Linked DNA regions of Homo sapiens: region 1 is linked to region 2. The links come from fine-mapping of genetic effects on gene expression. A gene starts in region 2. The other region holds a variant in brackets. All regions are shown on one strand. Distances are from middle to middle. Region 1 overlaps TAFA1 (TAFA chemokine like family member 1). Region 2 holds the start of SUCLG2-DT (SUCLG2 divergent transcript).

Evidence for each region.
Region 1: its variant is fine-mapped to the expression of SUCLG2-DT in subcutaneous fat (FUSION, PIP 0.95).

The regions. Positions count from the first base shown.
Region 1 is chr3:68,174,220-68,185,807 of GRCh38, reverse strand. The region is part of intron 2 of TAFA1 (TAFA chemokine like family member 1); the gene reads right to left. Among named protein-coding and RNA genes, the nearest start is that of TAFA1, 180 kb to the right of the region's middle. The variant A/TAATAATAATAATAAA (reference allele first, on the strand shown) is at 5,796.
Region 2 is chr3:67,650,024-67,661,611 of GRCh38, reverse strand. It overlaps SUCLG2-DT (SUCLG2 divergent transcript), which reads right to left and starts at 6,915. Exons shown (of 7, transcript NR_109992.1): 1 at 6,510-6,915. SUCLG2 (succinate-CoA ligase GDP-forming subunit beta) reads left to right here and starts at 7,000. Exons shown (of 11, transcript NM_003848.4): 1 at 7,000-7,109. The coding sequence starts at 7,026. RefSeq lists enhancers at 6,694-7,193, 10,828-10,877 and a silencer at 6,709-7,388.

The DNA.
Region 1 (11,588 bases), 520 kb before region 2:
CCTGAGTAGCTGGGACTAAAGGCAGGCGCCACCACACCTGGCTAGTTTTTGTATTTTTTCTGTAGAGATGAAGTTTCTTTATGTTGCCCAGGCTGGTCTGGAACTCCTGAGCTCAAGTGAGCTATCTGGCTTGGCCTCCCAAAGTGCTGGGATTACAGGTGTGAGCCACTGCACCTGTAATAGTTCATTTTAAAGGTGTCTTTCTACTAAGGTTAGATGATACTGTGGTTGCATTTACATAGCGATACAAAGTTTTATTTTAAAATAAATTCATTTAAGACAAGAAGTGAATAGATTTAATGCAACAAATTAAGGAAATAACAGTACAAGCTGTACTCTGGTGGAGCAAACCATGAAAATGTTATGAAAATACCAAAGACTGGAAAACACAGCCTTATACCATCCTTGAGGTTCCAGTCCCTTCTACCTCCTTACATACCACAAACTTCTACTCTCTTTACCTGCCATTAAGGCTTCTGTATTTCAAGTCCATTCTTCTTTATTGATGTTGGCTCCCCAAATGTGATTTGCTCTATTTGGAAACGTCCTTTCCCTTCTCTTTCCCTTCTTACCCTCACTTTACTGGCTCCTACTCATCCTTCCAGGGTCCCTTTAAATGTCACTTCCTCAGGAATACCCTTCTTGCTGTCTCCCATGCGGACTGGTTCCTCTGGCTACACATCTCCACTTAGTGCTTGCTCAGATGTCTGTCTTCTCTGATAGCCTAGGAGTGTCATGAGAACAGAGGCTTTTAGACAATTGTCTTGGCAGAGTCCCTGACATATAGCAGGGTTAAATATTTATTGGTTTAAATTGAATGAAGAAAAACAGCATTTCAAATGAGAAATTGAATGTATACCAGTGATTGTTCAAGTGAAGGATGTAGAAAAACATCCCGGGTGTTTTTGCAGAACACACTTTCCCATGTCTCAGCCCATAGGAATCTGCTTCATCACATTGGGTTGAAGAGTGAACATTTTTAACAAGTAAAATGGTGGTCCACAGGCCACTATGAAAAATATTAAATCTATACATATGGCAGTCAACATTCTTTGGGCCTGATATCTTTCTTTCTCTAGAGCAATTTCACATGAGTGAGTAGTTAACCTTTGCTCATTTAATCAAACCTAATATTCGTTCAACACCTGTTTTTGTTAGCAAATGGGAGCTTTCGTGTTCCCAGTATATATTGGAGCTAATCAATAGTCCTGCTTTAGGGATAGAAGAGACATGCCAAAAATTACCTATGTAGCATTTCAGACTGTTTTCAGGGGCAAAAAATAATAATTTTTATCCTTATAGAGAATAAAAATCAGCTCTCTTTCTTTTGCTTTCACACACACACATGCACACAGTGCTTATCATCATAAATGTAGAAAATATGTTGGTATACCTTCTAGCCACAGTGTTTCCAAATACAGACTCTAATAATTTTCTAAGCCTCCAGCCCTGCAAGGTTTATCAAACCTGATATTTGCTTTCAGGTAGGACTTAGAATGCTTTGAAATCGCTGTCATGTAACTTGTGGAGGTGATCTATTTCATTACCGTATCCATCCTCTGTCAATCATCTGAATTATCATAAATGTTAGTGTCAACCTAATCATTTGATTCCTTATTCACGGAAATTCGCAGAAAATTTCAGGGAGAATACAGCATGTATGACACTTTTTGATGTCCAGTTCCTCTCTGAGGCATATGAATGTAAAGTGTCATATCGCTATCCTGGAGAAAAGCAGCTTAATGTTAGTGTTTGGATAAGACATTTGAGTTTTTTGTTCAGGTTACAGATTAGGAACAATTACATTAAATCGTAATGAAGGGGAATATCTTTTTGAATATATTAGCTTTGCATTACAGAAGACCAAGGTTAGCTTACATCCCTCACTGTGGTTATCTCTGAAGCACATGGCATTATATAGTACACATCTGTGCATTCATTTTCCCTGACATGTTAACTACAGTTACTACTGTTTTGTATGCATCAATTCCCATTCTCAGAGCAAAATGAGAACTATAGAACTGACTCTGATCTAAATAGAATGTGCTTAGGAGCAAATATGCTATCACAATCCCTTGTATTACCAAAGTGGGTTGGAAATCACCACACAGGTAATGAAAGAATGAACAGTCCCTAAATTCAAAAGTGATGCATGAACAAAATTCTGTGTTTCAATTAGACTGCATAAGCTGTGAAATGATCCAATAACCTTCTCACTGTTGAGGGCAGCTAATAAATAATAAGAAAAGATATACAGGATCCAACAGTCTTCTGATCATAATAGTTCCAATCAAAGTCTTTATTGCATCAAAAATATACTTTGTCTTAAAATGGGAACTTCATCAAGCTATTAATATGCACCTCACTTTTATACCTCACTAAAGACAATGTATCTGAAACATAATAAGTTGCTAGAGTGTTCCAATGTATGACAATGCATGACTTCTGGTTCCTTATTTCCTGATGTTATGACATTGCTGTCCAATCATGGGGCATAATGAGGAGCTCGAGATCTTATATTATCACTTAATGAAGTCCAATTAAGAATCATTAACCTTTGCTCCACTTCTCATACTTGATGCACAATAAGTGGTCCTGGGATAACTTTAAAAGGTGAACTTGGGCAAAACTAGTCAATGGATCTTTTGAAGAATTAAAGCCCTCTCAAACCACCATTTCACCCAAAGCGATGGGGCAGGTATACTATTGATTGATGATAAAACTACACACATACTGCTCAGGTCAAATGTATTGAGTAGTGCAAGAATTTTCTGATAGGATAATTATTTGGGAGGGTTGGTTGAACCAACTGAAATAAAGATACATGACTTTGATGATTTGTTTCAACATTTTATCTATGAACCTCTGGAACCTAGACACAAATTATATTTCTTTTTATTATATTTTCAATGCAATCCAACCTATTCTTATCACCACCATATGCATAAAATATAAACAGCATCCATAAAACATGACATTATCACTAAATAATAAACTAAATTGGCTGAAATTGCTAATAAATGTGTATAGTGCATAAAGCAATATGTTTTACGTAGGGTTTACAAGAATGCAAGGTTTATATACAGAAATGACTTAAGGGCTGTAAGACATTATGTTAAAACTCACATTAAAATGTGTGTATGTTGACAAGTACTTTAAAAGAGTGTTGTGCATTAAGTACTTTAAAGGGGTGTTGGATGTTGTTCATGTTAATGTGATAAATTCAGTATTCTATAGGATCAGATAAATTAGTAATAACAACAGTACCAATTGAAGCAATAACCTGGTACAATAATTTCTAATTCCCATTTCTGATATTTGGATGTTAAACTGTTAGTAGTTTTGAATGAAATACTACTGCATTGTATGTAAATGTCACCACCCCAGAAGCTGACGGCACCATGCATCACACTATACATCTCATTCATTTGTATCTCCATACTGAGCACAATACACAGTACAACACTGGGGCTTTTACAAAGCTTGCTGAATAAAGAAATGAATAGTATCCAATTTTCCACCTGGTAATGTAATACTGAGAAATCCATTAAGGGTTACACAGTTTGTCTGTCTGTCTGTTTATGAATTCATTTATGTTTGAGACAGGGTCTCACTCTGTCACCCAGGCTGGAGTACAGTGGTTTAATCATGACTCACTGCAGCCTTGACCTCCTGGGATCAAGTGATCTTCTTGCCTCAGCCTCACCAGTAGCTAAGACTGCAAGCGTGTGCCACCCACACCCAGCTAATGTTTTTTGCTTTGTGTAGAGATGGGGTCTCACTATGTTGCCCAGGCTGGTCTCAAGCTCCCCAGCTCAAGTGATCCTCCTGCCTTAGCCTCCCGAAGTGCTGGGATTACAGGCATGAACTACCATCCCCAGCCTGTAAACTGTATTTATCATATAGTTTAAAAGTAAGGAATGACATCCAGATCTTTGAGACAATGTTTTAGCTCTGCTCTGCTTCTTTCATAACTTAGATTTCACCCTATTTTACAGATGAAAGTGTTGCAACCTCCACTCTTTTCCTTTCGATGTGTGCTGAGAGAGCCCACAACAGATGTCTAAGCCATTTCCAGTCATCTCCATTAGGAGTCTAGTATTCTGGGAACTTGTCTTGATCAATAGTTTCTAACATTTTTGTATCTAAGACATACTTTAGATAATCAGAATATTTGGAACCACATATGAAGGGAATTTTTAAAAGATAAATCTAAACAGTGCATAAAAAATAATAATTACCCTATTAGCAACATTATCAGTATAACAGTCTCTCATAACAGCTAACTCACCACTGGTTACCCTGAATTTACTTCATAGTTACTGAGTACCTCCAACATCAGTTATTAGACCAAAACTATATTCACTGGAACAGAAAAATTTACTGCCTTCACTTACATAATTCTAAGGAAGTTTTTTTTTTTTTTTTTGTATGTTCTAGTCAGTGCACCATCTTTCTCTGGAGTAAGGTATATTATTTACCTACTGTTGCATAACAAATTACTCTAAATTTCAGCAGCTTAAAACAAGACACAGTTTCTACAGATCAGGAGTTGGGGCACAATTTGGCTGGGTCCCCACTAGCCAGCCCCACCTGACTGAGTCTCTCACCAGGCTGCAATCAAGATGACAGCAACAGTTATGGTCTCATCTCAAAGCTTAACTGGAGAAGGATCTACTCACTCATGTGCTTGTTGGCAGGGTTCAGTTCCTTGTAGTTTGTTGGACCAAGGGCCCAAGGTTTTTGCTGACCGTTGGCCAAAGGTGGCCTTCTCGTCCGTACTTTGTGTGTTTATGCAGCATTGCAGCTTGTTTCATGAAAACCAGCTAGGCTAGAGAAGGGAAGACCAAGAGTGCCAGCAAAATGGAAGTCACCACCTTTTATAACCCAATCTCAGAAGGCACATCACTTCGTTTTTGCTGTATTCTGTGGTTGTTTTTTCCAGAATAAAGTCACTAGGCCTAGCCCACACAGAGAGAGAGGGGATACAGAAGGGCATGAAAACTAGGAGGAGAGGATCATCAGGGGTCGTATTAGAAGCTGCCTACCACATAGGTGATGTTGCTATTCTGGTGACCACACACATAAAGGTCTGCAGAGGCCAGGGAAGAATTGTAAATGACTGAAACATGTCAGTTGCCAAGAAAAATAAGGGGTTGTAGGGACTGGGGCAAACTGGGAAGTATCTATCTTCTCTAGAAGGGGCAGACACTACTCACCTCCTACTGACTTTTGTCAACTGGCTCATTTTTCAAAAGAAACCATAAATCCCAGTATTTACGATAAATCATCTGAACTTCTTATGTTGGGACAATATGGGCTAATCAAACAAAAATTGCCTGCAGGTGTGATGCTGTTCTCGTTCAGTATCCTTTACCTCTTGTTACTAGCTATCTAGCTCCTCTGCCATTTCAGCTCACAATCTGAAAACCCAGCTCAACATGAGTCTGACATATATAAATAAAATAGGCTGGATGTGGTGGCTCACACTTGTAATCCTAGCACTCTGAGTGGCCAAAGCAGGTGGATAACCTGAGGTCGGGAGTTCGAGACCAGCCTGGCCAACATAGTGAAAGACTGTCTCTACTAAAAATACAAAAAAAAAAAATTAGCCAGGTGTGGTGGTGCACACCTGTAGTCCCAGCTACATTACATGGGAGGCTAAGGCAGAAGAATTACTTGAAACTGGGAGGTGGAGGTTGCAGTGAGCCCAGATGGTGCCACTGCACTCCAGCCTGGGTGACAGAGTAAGACTCCCTCTCAAATAATAATAATAATAATAATAATAATAATAA[A/TAATAATAATAATAAA]ATTATGTGTTATAGGCAGGAAAGAATCTTATGCAAGCGTCAAAATTTGGTGTACACTAGCTGATTTGTTCATAGAGTTTAAGCATAATTAATAATTTATTTGCATTCACACAAGCATACATACAAATAAATGGGGTCAGGTAAATGAAGGACAGATGGGAAGACTGTCCTCCCAAATTTCAGGAGCATGCATTCAAGCAAAGTCACCTTATTTGACAATCCAAAAGAAACTATTTTCTACTTCACATATCTATTATCCAATTCATTTATTTGATAATTAATAAGTGAAAAATTCTAGCATTGTGCGGTTACATCAAGAAGAGGCAGATTAGCTGATGTTACTTTGGAAACTTTACAAAGAAAACATTTTCAGTGTTCTCCAGGGCTGGAGTTGCAAACAAGAGGTTCTTTAATAAATCACTAGATAAGTGCTTGTTATTACATTATTATTTAATAATTTAGAAACACAAGGAGTACAGAAAAAGAAAACCCCTAGTTCAATTTTTACAACTTCATTTTCTTTAAAAATGCAGACCAATGTTAAAAGGAGGAAAAATGGAAAGATGAACAAAATGAGCAGGAACAACATGATCCAAATTTTAAAATCCTAATGAAGATCAGAATTCCACTTTCATTCTGTAATACTTGTGCACTTAAATTAAGTTCTGAAGGTCATTTAGTAATGTAGGGTTGTAAAGCCTAAAAATATTTTCTACATACAGAGGAAAGAAATCAAAGAAATATGCTGATCTGGTATATGTCCTAGAATTTTAAATTTTAAAAATGCCAAAAGTAGGGTTTCTGTTCAGGGAAGATGAGTTGACATAAAATATAGTTTTCCTGGAAGTAAGTTATAGCCTAATGAAATTATGAATGATGATGTGTGTTTCAAAATAGCAATTATGTAGTCTTGAGTGGTTCTGCTATAAAAAACTGCTCTTATTCATCAAATAAGTGTGTTCTTAGCACCACCTTCTCTCCTCCTTGATATGTTAACAGTAAAAACATACAATATCTCCGAGTTTATCACAGAATTCACTGGCTACAAAATAGCCCCAGACGTGTGTTTGGGGATTTCCCCTTTGATCCATAAGGAAGCTCAGAGAGATACTACTGACTTTCTTCAAGCCATTCTCCACCACCAGCTGGAAGCACCTCCTTAAACAGTGTACCTCAGTACATCATCTCTTCTAGGGATCTCACTATTCTCTAAATTGAATCTAAACTCCTTACGTGGATAACAAAGCTTTGTGCTACTTTGTCCATTTCTCCTTTTCCCAGCTAATCTCATTATTCTACCTTACCTTCCTTGTGGTCCAGCCAAGTAGCTGTCTTTCAGATCCTTGTGCATGCCAAGGTATTTCCGCCCCAGGGCATATATATCTGTTTCTCTTTTAGCCTGGAGTATCTTTCCTGAGCTTTTTTTCCAGCCTGTTTGTCAGTTAGGTAACAGTTTTATACATACCTCCTCCTGGATGCCTTCCCTGAACACTCTGAATTAATTCTCATACCCATCTCTCCATTATTAATTTCCATCTTAACCCCTTGCTTGCTTCATTCCTAACACCTATAAAAAATCATGATCATTTTACTTCTTTGATAACGTTTTTGGTCTGTTCCTTCCACTACAATATTAAATAATAAGAAAGGGATTATGCCAACCCTGCTCACTATTATTTCCAGCATTGAATCAGCATGTCTGGCACAGTGGAAGCAACTGATAAGTATGTGTTGTATGAGTGAATGAATGAGGAAATAGATGACAACTTGAAAATAAATTTTGGTTAGGCCATCACACAACATAATAAATAGTTACCATATACCAGGTATGGTGCTTTGCAGGGTCATGTATTTTTTTTTGGGGAGGGGGGGATGGAGTCTCGCACTCTCACCCAGGCTGGAGTGCAGTGGTGCCATCTTGGCTCACTGCAAGCTCCGCCTCCCAGGTTCACGCCATTCTCCTGCCTCAGCCTCCCGAGTAGCTGGGACTATAGGCGCCCACCACCACACCAGGCTAATTTTTTGTATTTTTAGTAGAGATGGGGTTTCACCATGTTAGCCAGGATGGTCTCGATCTGCTGACCTTGTGATCCGCCCACCTCGGACTCCCAAAGGGCTGGGATTACAGGCGTGAGCCACCATGCCCAGCCCAGGGTTAAGTTTTTAATTTGGTGACCATCCTCTGAAATATCTACTATTATTACCATCAGAGTTTAGAAGGAGAAACTGAAGGTCATGGGTATTAAGTCATTTGCCCAAAGACAAGACAGATTATAAAAGGAGTAGGAAGAGCATTTGAACTTGGTTCTGTCTTCCTCAAGACTTCCAGCTTGTAACTATTATATTCACCATTAATAGTTAAGCCCTTGTGGAAAATTAGGAGTTTCTAATTATTTAGATTGGGACTACACTTTAGATAACTGCCTAAAACTACATTTAAACTTGTACCCAAGATGACAATATATCTAATCACAAATTGAATATAATAGGAGCTTACTCCTATTATATTCCTGATTACTACAGCTAGAAGTCTCAGGATGACAAGTTTCTCTCTTCAAAAGAGCAAGGTAGTAGTAAAGAAGCTGAAGAAGCACAGAATTCCAGGACTTTTTTCATTAGTGAGGTTTTCTCTTTAGCCATGAGCTCTGTAGCTACATCTAAGAGAAGTCAAGTGTGAATCTCAGTTTTCTAAAAGAGCTGGTTCTAAACTTCTCTGATCATTAATGTTGATTTACCAATTAAATATCCCAGAGCAAATTCGAGGGAGCATGCCTTGGTGTCTACTTGGCAGAAATATGTGGGCAACTAAGGAATTCTCTGCGTCCTACTTTGATGAAATATGTTACCAATTCTGCCTAATTAGAATTACTCCTTTTCTCTTTTAATTGCATCCCTATGCATATTTGTCCTCATTCATAGAATATAAACAGTTGACACCATCTGAGTTTCTGTAATATTTACAGTTTCAGTAAGGTCTATGAAGACTTCGGTGAAAATACCAGTTCTCGATGATCACCAGTCTATAAAACATCTTAATTCAAATGCCACCAAGAACCAGATGAGCAATATAGTGAATCATAAACAACTGAATCAATTTCCCCCCACATTCCTCCCAGAACTAGTAAACAATCTACTCCCAGGTTGAGCTTTTGTGCTGAGTTTCATCCCAGAATACAACTTTACAATGGAGTTTTAAGCCCCAAAATTGCTGATGTAGCCTTAATTATAGCTATGCTGGTGACACCATTCTAATGAACTCTTTGCTATTTTATGTGGCCTGGGTGTCCCAGGAGGGGCATTGTCTAAACGAACAAACACATTGGTCAGGGTTTAGTGGGAATAGAGAAGTGGTAAATATGTATGTGTATGTGCATGCAACATGAATTATGCAAATTTTAATGAGTATGATATCAAAATGGTAATAGCACTTCCCACTATGGGAAGTATTTGAACTAATGCAAATCCTGTCAATTAAAAAGCTTCATCAAAATTATAGGGGAGACTAAATGATCTGTAAACTTTATTATTTACTTGGTGGAGTCTCACTCTGTCACCCAGGCTGGAGTGCAGTGGTGCAATCATAGCTCACTGTGAGGTGGAACTCCTGGGCTCAAGCAATCCTCTTGCCTCAGCCTCCCAAATAGCTAGGACCACAGGGACTTGACACCATGCTCACCTAGTTTTTTCAATTTTTGTAGAAACAGGGTCTCAATATGTTGCCCAGGCTTGTCTCAAACTCCTGGCCTCAAACAATTCTCCCACCTTGACCTCCCAATGTGCTGGAATTGTAGGCATGAGCCATGGCATCCTGCCTGTAAACTGTATTTATATTCATGTATTAGTCCATTTTCATGCTGCTGATAAAGACGTACCTGAGACTGGGAAGAAAAAAAGGTTCAATGAATGTACAGTTCCACATGGCTGGGGAGGTCTCACAATCATGGCAGAAGGGAAAGAGGAGCAACTCACATCTTATGTGGATGGTGCAGGCAAAGAAAAAGCTTGTGCAGGGATACTCCCATTTTAAAATCACCAGGTCTTGTGAGACATATTCACTATCACAAGAAAAACATGGGAAAGACCTGCCCTCATGATTCAGTTACCTCCCACTGGGTCCCTCCCACCACATGTGGGAATTCAAGATGATACTCGGGTGGGGACATAGCCAAGCCATATCATTCCACCCCTGGCCCCTCCCAAATCTCATGTTCTTACATTTCAAAAACAATCATGCCTTCCCAACCATCCCCCAAAGTCTTAACTCATTTCAGAATTAACTCAAAAGCCCACGGTCCAAAGTCTTATCTGAGACAAGGCAATTCCCTTCCACCTATGAGCCTGTAAAATCAAAAACAGGTAAGTTATTTTCTAGATACAGCAGGTAAACAGGCGTTGGGTAAATACAACCATTCCAAACGGGAGAGATTGGCCGAAACAAAGAGGCTACAGGCCCCATGCAAGCACAAAGTCCAGCAGGGCAGACGAATCTTAAAGCTCCAAAATGATCTCCTTTGAATCCATGTCTCACATGCAGGTCACACTGATGCAAGAGGTGGGTTCCCATAGTCTTGGACAACTCCGCCCTTGTGGTTGTGCAGGGTACAGACTTCCTCCTGGCTGCTTTCATGGGCTAGAATTGAGTGTCTGAGGCTTTTCCAGGTATATGGTGCAAGCTGTCAGTGGATCTACCATTCTGAGGTCTAGAGGACAGTGGCCCTCTTCTCACAGCTCCACTAGGCAGCGCCCCAGTAGGGACTCTGTGTTGGGGCTCCAACCTCACATTTCCCTTCCATACTGCCCTAGCAGAGGTTCTGCATGAGGGCCCTGCGCCTGCAGCAAACTTCTGCCTGGACATCCAGGTGTTTCCATACATCTACACTAGGAAATCTAGGCAGAGGTTCCCAAACCTTCATTCTTGATTTCTGTACACTTGCAAGCTCAGCACCTTGGGGAAGCTGCCAAGGCTTGAAGCTGGCATCCCCTGAAGCCATGACCTGAGCTCTTCATTGGCCCCTTTCAGCCATGGCTGGAGCAGCTGGGCTGCAGGGCACCAAGTCCCTAGGCTGCACACAGCATGGAGAACCCTGGGTTCAGCTCACTTTTTCCTCCTAGGCCTCTGGGCCTGTGATGGGAGGGGCAGCCATGAAGACCTCTGACATACCCTGGGGAGATTTTCCCCATTGTCTTAGGCAATAACATTGGGTTCCTTGTTACTTATGCAAATTTCTGCAGCAGGCTTGAATTTCTCCTCAGAAAATGGTATTTTCTTTTCTATCGCATTGTTAGGCTACAAATTTTCCAACTTTCATGCTCTGCTTCCCTTATAAAACTGAATGCCTTTAACAACACCCAAGTCACCTCTTGAATGCTTTGCTGCTTAGAAATTTCTTCCGCCAGATACACTAAATCATCTCTCTTAAGTTCAAAGTTCCACAAATGTCTAGGGCAGGGGCAAAATGCTGCCAGTCTCTGCTAAAACATAACAAATGTCACCTTTGCTCCAGTTCCCAACAAGTTCCTCATCTCCACCGGAGACCACCTCAGCCTGGACCTTATTGTTCATGTCACTATCAGCATTTTTGTCAAAGTCATTCAACAAGTCTCCAGGAAGTTCCAAACTTTCCCACATTTTTCTGTCTTCTTGGCGGCAGGAAAGACCTGCCCCCATGATTCAGTTACCTCCCACTGGGTCCCTCCTACAACATGTGGGACTCCAAGATGAGATCTGAGCAGGGACACAGCAAAACCATATCAATTTACTTATTTCCTCTATTGCGATGGACCACAATTATC
Region 2 (11,588 bases):
TGGCTGCTCACTTTATAATGAGGCAGGACATTTGTAAAAGAATGTTCCTTTAATTTTTACTTTACTGTTTAAAAGAAGCTATCTTAATAATATTGAAGGTGCTGAACTCCGCAGGTTCCAATTGCAATAAGAATTTAGGTTTTGTTTCTAACTTCTTTTCCACAGTCAATCTAATGCTACTTTTCTCTTTCGGTTCAAGAACCTCCACAGTCCTTTGTGTAAATGTTCTTTCCTCAGCTTTTACCATCTTCTTCATCCAGCTCCAAACTTCCTGCCAAAAGAATGTCATCACCCTTGTTTCCACCATTTCATCTTGTTCTCTGTTTTTAGTCTCTTCCACTGACCTTGTCTCCAGCTGGGCCTTCCCTAAGTTAATGATGTTCCTTACTCTTCCTCCTTTCTTATCTTAACTTTGAGCTGTCACCACTGCTCTAAACTTGCTTCCTGTGAATTCTCTCCAGGATGCAGTGAGAATTTCTCTTGAGCACACTTCAGTGTTGGCAAAGGAGACAGTTTTTGTCATAAATCCCTTTTCTTCTAGGCACCTTACATAGTCGTCCCTCACTGTCCATGGAGGACTGATTCCAGGAATTCCCATGGATAATAAAATTCATGGATGCTCAAATCTCTGATATAAAATGACATAATATTTCCATATAACCTATGCACATCTTCCTGTATACTTTAAGTCATTTTTAGATTACTTGTAATACCAAATACAATGTAAATGCTATGAAAATAGTTGCTACACTGTATTTTTTACTTGTATCATTTTTTATTATTGTTATTTTTTATTTTTTCCCCAGAATATTTTCAATCTGCAGTTGGTTGAATCATAGATGTGGAACCCACAGATACAGAGGACCGTCATTTAAATAAAGCTGCTGAGAAATACCATCAAAATTAATCATTTTAACGCATTATTGAAGAGGGAAAAATAACTTGAGCACAATGACCATTCTTTCTGTGCCACTGGCAAACAATACAACTGAATCACTGGTTAAAATGGCTATCACAAATAGCAACAGTGATATTACCTATGCATACAATGAAAGACCAAAAAGTTTAGTCTCCTGTAAATTCCAGAAATCTGTTATCCATTAAAAAATTAACCAGATGAAATCCACAGATGCCCTTTATTTCATCATTGTAATAGTGATTTTCATTCTTGACATGCAGCAGTATGAACTCAAATATGTAATTCATGAAAATTAGGGTTGTTTCTTAAAATATTCTATTCAGCTCTGCTGGTTACAATTAGTATTTGTCAAACAGTTTTTATGCTCAAGTGAAAAGGTAATGATAAAACACCACCAGAACTGCTAGATGCAGTATCCCTTTGCTGGGTTTCATGATATGTCTCTCTGGTAAATCTGCGCCCCTAGAGTAATCAGTGCGAATATGAAAATGAGCACATTATTTCACTGTTAACAGGCACTGCTAAGATGAAAGCGAAGGCATATAGGCCTGCTGATGTTTTTATTTTTCTTTTTGCAACAATTAACTGAATAAGAAACAGTATAGCCAAGGTGCTAGAAATACAAAGCTTAATCGTAGAGTTTTACAACTTCATATTTCAAATGCATGCAGTTTATGAGAAGTGTTACACTGTCAACTCACAGCTCAAATAAGATGTCATACTTGACCTTCATTTTACTAATAGGAAAACTGAGGTTCACAGATGTAAATACTAAAGAAATAAACACACGAAAAAGAGTTCTTAGTCAAATAATGAAGGTATGGTAGGTAACAGCCACTGGGATCTCAAGTGTTTGAGGATGCATCTCATTGGCAAAATAGGTACTATCATAATCCCCTTTCCACAGATCAAGGAATTGAGATTGTTAAGTAACTGGTCCAGGGTCATGGAGCTTTTAAATCACAGAGTCAACACTTGCAATGTCTACCTCTGTGCTTCAGTCTGATATCAGAGTGCAGAATGCTTTCAATAGTGCTATTGCCTATGGCCATAGTTACTGTTCAAGCAGTTCACAATTGCCATTTTGACACAGCAAAAGCGTAGAATAGCTGTTCATTCACCTTAAGCCAATGCTTCTACATGTCGCAGCCGATTTAGACCACGGGTAGAAAATGGGTCTGGTACCAGGTGTCAAGGCTCTCTGAAAGCACCAGTCATCATCTCCATCTATGATTTATCAACTTTTTGTCCTATATTTAGGAACCAAATGGGGGATAGCAGAGTAACTCGTCTTTGGATTCACCAGGAAACATCTTCAGAGTTCACCACTATGGTTTGCTTTGTTTGCTTTTTTAGTTCTCAAACTAAAGAACACTTTGGAAAGATTATTTAAAATGCAGGTCCCAGTCTCCATCCTAAGTGATTCTGATTTCATGAGTATGAGGTGGAGACCAGGAATCTGAATATTTGAAACTCTAAAACAAAATGTAATGGTTCCTTGACCACTACTCTCTATCCTCTTCTTGGAGGCAACCACTTTAGACTCTTAATACTTTTGTCTGGCATTTGTACATCTCTGTAATTCTCCAGTGCTATCAAGATAAATTACAAAGTGTCAGGGGTCTCCTAACCTACATCTCAGATTGGCCCTAGTGTTTCACATTTGATATCAAGCAAATATTTGTTATGGACCCACTAGAGGAAGAAAAAGAACATCTATGAAGTCTTTACTATGTGCAAGGTCTTTACATGCAACATCTGATCATTGACTACTTACTACTACCCTATGAACCAGGTATTTTCCTAGTCACAGGTGTTCAAGGGGGTGGAGGTCAGATTTGAATCCAATCCAGTTTGGCTGAAAACTTAATGCTTGTTCCAGGAAAGCACAGTGCAGAACTCTGGTAGAATCTAGATTCCCTGTTCTCAAAGAGATTCCTATTTGGGGGAGGTTGGAGGGTGGAAGCGGGGAGTATGAAATAGGGAGAAATCTTACGAGGAACTCTATAATGCAATTCATTCCACATATGTTTATTGATTACTTTTTCTAATCAAAGTCCAGTGCTAGACACTGGAGGTGCTACATAAATGGTTCTCTTTCTTCCTTCTGTCCCTTCTCCCCTACCACCTTCCTGCAGAGAAGGCAGAATGAGATAATACGAGTAAAGACACTGAGGAATTGCTGATGAAAGATTTGGACCCCAGAACCAAGGATGAGACAGTCTTCCAATTCAGACAGGAAAACTCTTAGGAGGCTGCTAACCCTGGAAAGACCCCAAGTTACGCACCAGTAGATAGTAAACAAATCAAAGAATACCAAATGTACTTGGATGACAATCAGAAAGCCTCTCCCGACTCCACTTTCAAAAATCCCCCCATAATAGAATAATCGCATCTTAAAAGAACACTCATCAATCAAAGACAGTCTTAAGAGTCTCTCCTTTATCTCTATAAAACTAACACTTCTTTCAAACGACTTCTAGTCTCATTTGGAAGGAAAGTGATAGTAGCCAACTCCCTTAGCATAGTAACGTCTGAATAAACAGCCTTTGATTAATTCTATAGGTGGTCTTCCTCCTTTTGGCAAAATGTTCACAAGCTCTCACCAAGTTTAAACGTTCACTCTCAAACATTAGCAAGTCTTTGCTCTATCCCGGCGGACCCAGTAGGGGTAATGATGAACAATATGGAAACTCAAATCCAGTTTTGTCAAGAGGAGGGTGCTAAGAGTGATTGGAGTCCAGCTTTGGGAAATTTGATCCCAAGCTGTGTCACCCTTGGCAAGTTACTTGACCTTAGAGTCATGTAAATGTCATGTGGAACTCTGTGGCCAAGTTTCTCTCTGGCAAAATGGGAATAATAGTAGGACCCCATTTGCAGGGCTCCTGTGAAGATTAAATGACTGAAAACAGAGGCAGCAGAGTGTATGTATCAGGAAAGAGCATCGGTTTGCCATTTAATAAAAAAGAATCCATGAGTCCACAGTGATACAAGTGAATAAAACAATTCACCGACGAATAGTGTTACAGTGAACTAAATATGGCCTAAGGAGGACTCGGTACTTCTATATTTGAGTCCTTGTGGACGAACTGCAACCTAGCTTAATAGGTAGACAAGATTGAAAACCTAACTTAGAAGTATGGACCTAAAACAACAGCTAAGTCTTGGCAATCCCAGTGGCCATATTTTAACCATTTATACATTGCTGAGTGTTCAAACTGTGTAAGGCAAATGCCAAGCTGTAACCAATCCAGCTGTTCTGTACCTCACTTCTGATTTCTGTAAGTCATTTCCCTTTTTTCCTCTATAAATCTTCTTCCACCACGTGGCTGCGCTGGAGTCTCTGTGAATCCACTGTGATTCTGGGAGCTGCCCGATTGGCGAACCGTTCATTGCTCAATTAAACTCCTTTACATTTAATTTAGCTGAAGTTTTTCTTTCATCAATGGAGATGATGGAAAGAGTGCAGTTTTTCTGAGTAGAATACAGACTAATAAATGTAGGATGGAGTTAGACCTTGCCACTTTGCCACCATCGTGACAATAATTGATTTAAACAATCATCATCATCCTTATCATCAAAAGATGCTACATCTAGTGGGTAAAACTATGTCTCGAAATGGGCTAGAAATTATATTAAAATAAAAATCCTCAGCTCCCCCACTTTCCAAAGAGAGAGATTAGGAAAGAAGCTAGTAGCAACAGCTGTCTACTTATGTCACATTGTACCTTTTTTCATGATCATATGCTCAAGAATGAGTAAGGTTAAAAAAAAAAATCTAAAATAGTGCTTAATTTGGGGGTGGGTGGAAGGGATGTGAATCTCATCTCTTATCAGACCTGCCACCTCTGGCAAGTTACTTAACCTCTGTGCACCTCAGTTTTCTCTTCTGCAAAATGGGGATTGTACACTTCTACTCATTTAAAACTTTGCTATGAAGACTAAACAAGTTTATATTTGTCTAATGCTTGGCACACATTCAGTAACTTTGCTGTTGTTTTTATTATATGCACATTGCTTAGACTCGCGTAAACTCTGTGAAAGGGAAATAATCTTGGGACTCCCAAATCACTAAGGTAAAGGGAAAAGTTAAGGTGGGAACTGCTTAGGGCAAACCTGCCTCCCATTCTATTCAAAGTCATCCCTCTGCTCACAGAGATAGACGCACAGCTGATTGCTTCCTTTGGAAAGGCCAATCAGAAACCCAAAAGAATGCAACCCTTTGTGTCTTATCTACCCATAACCTAGAAGCCCCTCCTTGCTTCCAGTTGTCTCGCTTTTCTGGACCAAACCAATGTACATTTTACATATATTGATGTCTCATATCTCCCTAAAATGTATAAAACCAAGCTGTGTCCTCCACCACACCTTGGGCACATGTCAGGACCTCCTGAGGCTGTGTCACAGGCACGTGTCCTTAACTGTGGCCAAATAAACTTCTTAAATTGATTGAGACCTGTGTCAGGTATTTGGGGTTCACAGCTCCAAATGAATGTTGCTTTTATCACTCTGATTACTGGGCTTAAAATCCTCCAATAGCTTTGTGTCCGGAATTGGTTCCTTCCCGTGGGTTCTTAATCGTCTCGCTGACTTCCAGAATGAAACTGCAGACCCTCGCGGTAAAGATGGCGTGACCAGAATTTGTTCCTGCAGATGTTCAAATGTATCTGGGGTTTCTTCCTTCCGGTGGGTTCGTGGTCTCGCTGACTTCAGGAGTGAAGCCGCAGACTTCACAGTGAGTGTTACAGCTCTTAAAGGTGGCCCGTCCGGAGTTGTTTGTTCCTGCCTGTGGGTTCGTGGTCTCGCTGACTTCACGAATGAAGCTGCAGACCTTTGCAGTGAGTGTTACAGCCCTCGAAGGTGGGGCATACGGAGTTGTTCATTCCTCCCAGTGGGTTCGCAGTCTCCCTGACCTCAGGAGTGAAACTGCAAACCTTTGTGGTGAGTGTTATAGCTCATAAGGATAGTGCGGACCCAAACAGTGAACAGCAGCAAGAGCTACTGCAAAAAGCAAAAGCACAAAGCAACCACAACCTGGAAGGAGACCCCAACTAGGGGCCACTACTGGCGCCGGTGTCCAGCTTTTATTCCCTTATTTGGCCCCACCCTCATCCTGCTGATTGGTCCATTTTACAGAGTGCCAATTGGTCCATTTTACAGAGTGCTGATTGGTCCCTTTTTAAAGAGTGCTGATTGGTGCATTTACAAACGTTTAGCTAGACACAGAGCGCTGATTGGTGCGTTTTTACAGAGTGCCGATTGGTGTGTTTACAAACCTTTAGCCAGACACAGAGCACTGATTGGTGCATTTACAATCCTTTAGCTAACAGAAAAGTTCTCCAAGTCCCCACCTGATTAGCTAGACACAGAGGGCTGGCTGGTGTATTTACAAACCTTTAGCTAGACACAGAGCGCTGATTGGTGCATTTACAATCATTTAGCTAGACAGAGAAGTTCTCCAAGTCCCCAACCGACCCACCCGGCTTCATCTCTCAGCTTTACATTGATTTTAGGTTAAGGATAGAACAAAACAAAACACCCACAACTCCTTAAGGGATGGAGAGCCTCCAATGGCCTCTCCTTGACTCACCTGAAGCCCTGGGCTGCAGGAACCTCACCTGTCTCTATTCGTTAAAGTCTCAGCTCAAACACCACTGTCCCAGATAGGCCTCGTGACCGCAGGACTAGACCACGGTTCTCTGCGGAGGGCGTCAGCTCCGTGAGCCACCCTTCCAGCACCCACTGCCATGGCGAATATTTGCTTGTTTGGCCATCCAGGGACTGTTTGAGCCCCAAGACCGCAGGGCTCGGGGTCTGTCTTTGCTCAGGACGATAACCTGGGGACTGGACAGTAGGCCCTCAGGCCTTGGGACCGCTCAAAGTGAACCGGGGCCGGGTGGGGGACCCAGGGCTCTGCAGCCTTAAGAACGCCTGTGCCCCCGGGACGCAGGGGTCAGGCCCGGCCCGGCCCAGACCGCCTCTGCCTCCTCCTCCTTTTCCTCCCCGCGCCCGCTTCTCCTCTGACCCCTCCTCCCGCTGCTCCTCCTCCGCCTCCTTCCCCTGCCCGCGCCCGCCCTACTGCCCCGTGCCGAGTTTCCTGTTTAAGATGGCGTCCCCCGTAGCAGCGCAGGCCGGGAAGCTTCTGCGAGCCCTAGCGCTGCGGCCCCGCTTCCTGGCGGCCGGGTCCCAGGTGAGCGTGGGGGCAGGAGCTGCGGGCGCCAGCAGCGGCGCCGGCCTGCCCGGGCTTCCCTCGCCCCCTGCTACTCTTGGTCTCCGCCTGACCCCCTGCGCGGCCCCTCGGGCGCCCCACTTCGGGAGGTGACGCGGCGCCGGGTCCAGGCGCAGCAGGGAACCCCGCTCCAGTGTGGGGCAGGGGCGGCGCGGCGGCAGCCCCGGGTGCCTCGGGGTATGAGCGACCCAACGCACTAGAGTCTCCGCTGTCTGCCCGCGCAGACTCATGGCGAAGGCGCTGAAGCAGGCGCTGGACGCAAGTTTAAGAAAAGTTTCTTGGACCGGGTTTTGGAGCCCTGAGGTTTTATTGTCAGCTCTACTAATTCTGCTTTTCAAACTTCTGGCACTAACCCTGAGCACGTTTAGACCACGTGATAAACATGCCTGGAAACCCGTTTCAGCCCAACTAGGAACTCACCCCCTAGGGTGAACTTCCTGCAGGCTACCTGCTTTTGCAGACTTTTAATGTGCCTGAGTTGGTCAAATCCGTGGGTCAAGGAGAAAAATGGGAAACGATCTTTCTCCTCTTTCCAATGAAAAATCAGGGCTGTCACTAAAACGCATTAGACCATTGACCCTGTCCATGTCCTCCTTGTTGATGGAGAATGAAATCAAAGAGGGTCAGTGGTGGGCTGGATAGCGATTGGAACTTGGCCTCTAGCAGATTTTTACCTTCTGCAGATGGCAAGCGTTAAAATAGTCAGAAGGACTTCAGGAAAGTTTTGAGTTGGTGATGACTCTTGTAGAAATCACTCAACCACTGAACTGGTTAGTCTCCGTAGACTATCTCTCTTCCCTTTTAAAGAAAGCACAGTCTGGGATTCAGCCACAGCAGAGTTAATGACCTTGCCTATTTCCCCATTTTTAATTGATGAGAGGCAAATTATCACTCATACAATTTTAACCAGGATGTGCATAGTATAGTTTTTTAGAAAATTTAAAAAATAGTGATTAATGATTTTTTGAGTTCCTCTAAACTTTGGTTATGACATCTGTGAGCTATTTTTACCCCTCTCCTTTCATTTCCTGCCTCCCCATTTCTCTGTTATTGTTAATGTAAATTTAAAAGGTGCTAATACTTACTACTGTAATATTCTTAATAGGTGCTTGACAGTATAGTGAGGTAGCAAAAGGAATGGCAGTTTTGTCTAATTAAAACTCACTAATAACTGTTGTAATAGAGTAAGGAGAATAGCTCTAGGAGATGAAGTCCTATTCATTATTTAAGTGTTAGAAAAAACAAGAACTAGGGTGCTTACCATGAGTGTAGACTTGAATTGATGAGAAACATGGGGCCCAGGGCAGTGAAAACTCATGAATTGTACAGAGAAACTGAAAATGCAGAGTGTTTAGCTGAAATATGTGAAGCCTACTTCCCTAACCAAGAAATAAGAGGCTGAACGCAACACAGGAGAAAATCTGGTTGGGGAGAGATACTCTTGGTTTGTCAAGAAAACTGGGTAAAAAGATCTGTTAGCACGCCCCATCTGGTTACTGTGATTTACATATTTGTGGATGATGTGTTTTTCTGTAAATTCTTAGAAGGTAAAAGTAGGTTTTTTTAAAGATAGAAAGGTACACAGTGTCCAAGAACTGGAAATGGACATTAGCAATCATTTAGTCCAGCCAGCTCATTTCATGGGTAGAGAAATTGAGGCCTAAAGAAGTTCAATGACATATTCAACGATACAGTGAGAGTTTGTGGCATTCCAGAGTAAAGGCTTACCTTTACGTTTCCGTTACACCATGCTGTTTCCTGGTGAGTATATACTTCCTCATGAAAATATATTATATCAACATGCAAATTAATCTGCATGCCAGTAGTAACTATATAACATCCAAGTCATTAGCACCACTGACACATTTTTATTTTTTTCTTTATGACCATCTTAGAATTGTCCATAAAAATGGTGAGTATTGCTATTTTCAAATTCTTGGGTGCTTCCTATGATCTGTTTCATGTACACTGATTTGATATTACGTTTCCATAGTCCCTTGCCCGTGGCAGACATTGCAGTTAAACATGGCCCACTTCTCTCATCATACTTAAGAATCCTCACCAAGTGTCTCAGAAATCTGTTGCCACTCTTGGCCCAGACCTATTTTATACCACCAGGCCTTGTGAAAAACTGTTGTCTGTACAGAAATAAAAGACCCAGTTTCTGCTTAGAGAAATAACTTTAACTGGTCTCTCAAAGATACCCATAGAATGACATTTTGTCTACCTCCTCCCTATGGTTAAATTTAACATTTGACACATATTCCTGATGCTTAGTGTCATTGAAGTTTTTTTTTTTTTTTCACCTTTGCTGTTAGCTTTACTGTTTTGACTTTTGATTGATAGTACGTCCTTAAAGGGTCCACTTTAGTCATTTCTTATTTTTCATATAGTTTTTATTCAGCCCATACCATTTGGCAGGACTGTTGTAGGCCCTGGGGTTTGGGGATGGTGAATGAGGCAGGCAGAGTCTTTGGCCACGTGATACTTTATTTTAATGGAGGTGGGAGAGAGTGAGCCAGTACACATATAACCAATAATGAAAATGATTTCAGCCAATGACAGATTCTGTGAAGAAAATCAGTCAGGGTCATGGGATGGAGAATGGATTGCTTCACAGCAGGGTAGTTTAGACTGGATGATCAGAGGAGACCTATTTGATATGGTGTGTTTTTGATTGGCATAATTTTTTAAACTGAAATATAAGACATACTGAAAAATGAACAATTACAAATGAACAACTTGATGAATTTTCATAAACTGAATGCAAACCCAGCTAACTAGGTACAGATGAAGAAAACGATCATTTAACAACAACCCAGAGGCCCCCTGGTGCTCCTGCCTGTCACTACCTCCACCCTACAAAGGGTCACCAGTCCCCTGACTTATAACGCTGGTTTTGTTCAGTTTTGTACTTTAGGTGAAATTATATGTAGGCATACACATACTTCACATTGCTCAGCATTATATGTAAGTGATCCTGGAGATGGCCTTTTTGACATATGAGCTGAGACCTGAGCGATGAAAGGTAGCCAGCTAGGTGAGACTAAGGGGAAGAGTGTGTTAGGCAGAGCAGACAGCAAGTGCAAAGACTGAGATGAGAATGAGCTGGGCATGTCTAGGTAATTAGAGGGGGAAAGTGGTAGTAGACTAGGTCTGAGAGGAAGACAAGGGCCAAATCATGTGGAGACCTGCAGGGTCTGCTAAGGAGGTTTCAGGGGTTTAAACCATACAGAGGCTGAATCCCAGTCCTGGCAGCCAAAGCACAGGCATGTAATTAATGTACTGTACACGCCCCCTGTTATAAATCTAAGTTAGGCTGGCTTTGAAACTTTTAGCAGAGTGGTGTTCAGTGAATTTAGCAGTAAGGGTCTAACCATGGTTAGAAGTCTTTCCAAAGACCTAAATCCTGGTAGACAGGGGCCATGTTGCTGTGTCCATATAGCCAAGTGAAAAGTGTGTGCAGTACTTGGTGGTGTAATATAGCCAGGCACTGCCATGGTGGGCAAGATATGAGTACATACTGCCAGTCAAGTCTTAGGGGAAATGTTGGCTGAGGGCACTGAGTTTGAAATGGTTCTTAAGTCTAAGCACAGTTTTGTTGTCTCTTAGGGTATTTCCCCTCTCTTTGGCTAGTGGAAGTTCATGGAGCTCTCTTGTAGGAGAAGCACTGCCTTTCAGGTCTCCAATTTTATTTTACTTTTTTTTTGAAAGAGAGTCTCACTCTCACCCAGGCTGGAGTGCGGTGGCCTGATCTTGGCTCACTACAACCTCCTCCTCCTGGGTACAAGCGATTCTCCTGCCTCGGCTTCCTGAGTAGCTGGTACCACAGATGCACGCCACCATGCCTGGCTGATTTTTGTATTTTTAGTAGAGATGGGGTTTCGCCATGTTGGTCAGGTTTGTCTCAAACTCCTGACCTCAAGTGATCTGCCCCCTTCAGCCTCCCAAAGTGTTGGGATTACAGATGTGGGCCACTGTGCCTGGCCAGGCCTCCTATTTTAGAATCCTTGTTGTATGTTTTCTGTGCAGCCCAGAGCTTCTGTCCAGGGACTTACAGAGGAATGTATGTTGTCAAAGAAACTGCTTAAACCCATGCCCCTGCTGTTGTATACTCAGAAAGAATGGCTCCAGCCTAATTTTCTGCCTTTACGGAAGTGGGAGGAGAAAGATGAATGCATGACTTTTGTAAGTGAAGGACTAAAGGTTATGGGCAAGTTCTTATCAGCTAAATGAGGCTGTGGCGGCTGCATTGGAAGTTGTGACTTACCTGTATCTCCCTCTTGCCTAGGAGAATAAATATTTGACTTTTTTCTTTTTTTAAAATGAAGTACAGCTGCAATTTCTGCTTTTAGAAAAGGGAATCCATCTCAAATAATTTAGATGCTAAACTATTGACCTTCCTTGTGGGGAAGACCGTTAAGTGATAGCTTTGTCCTA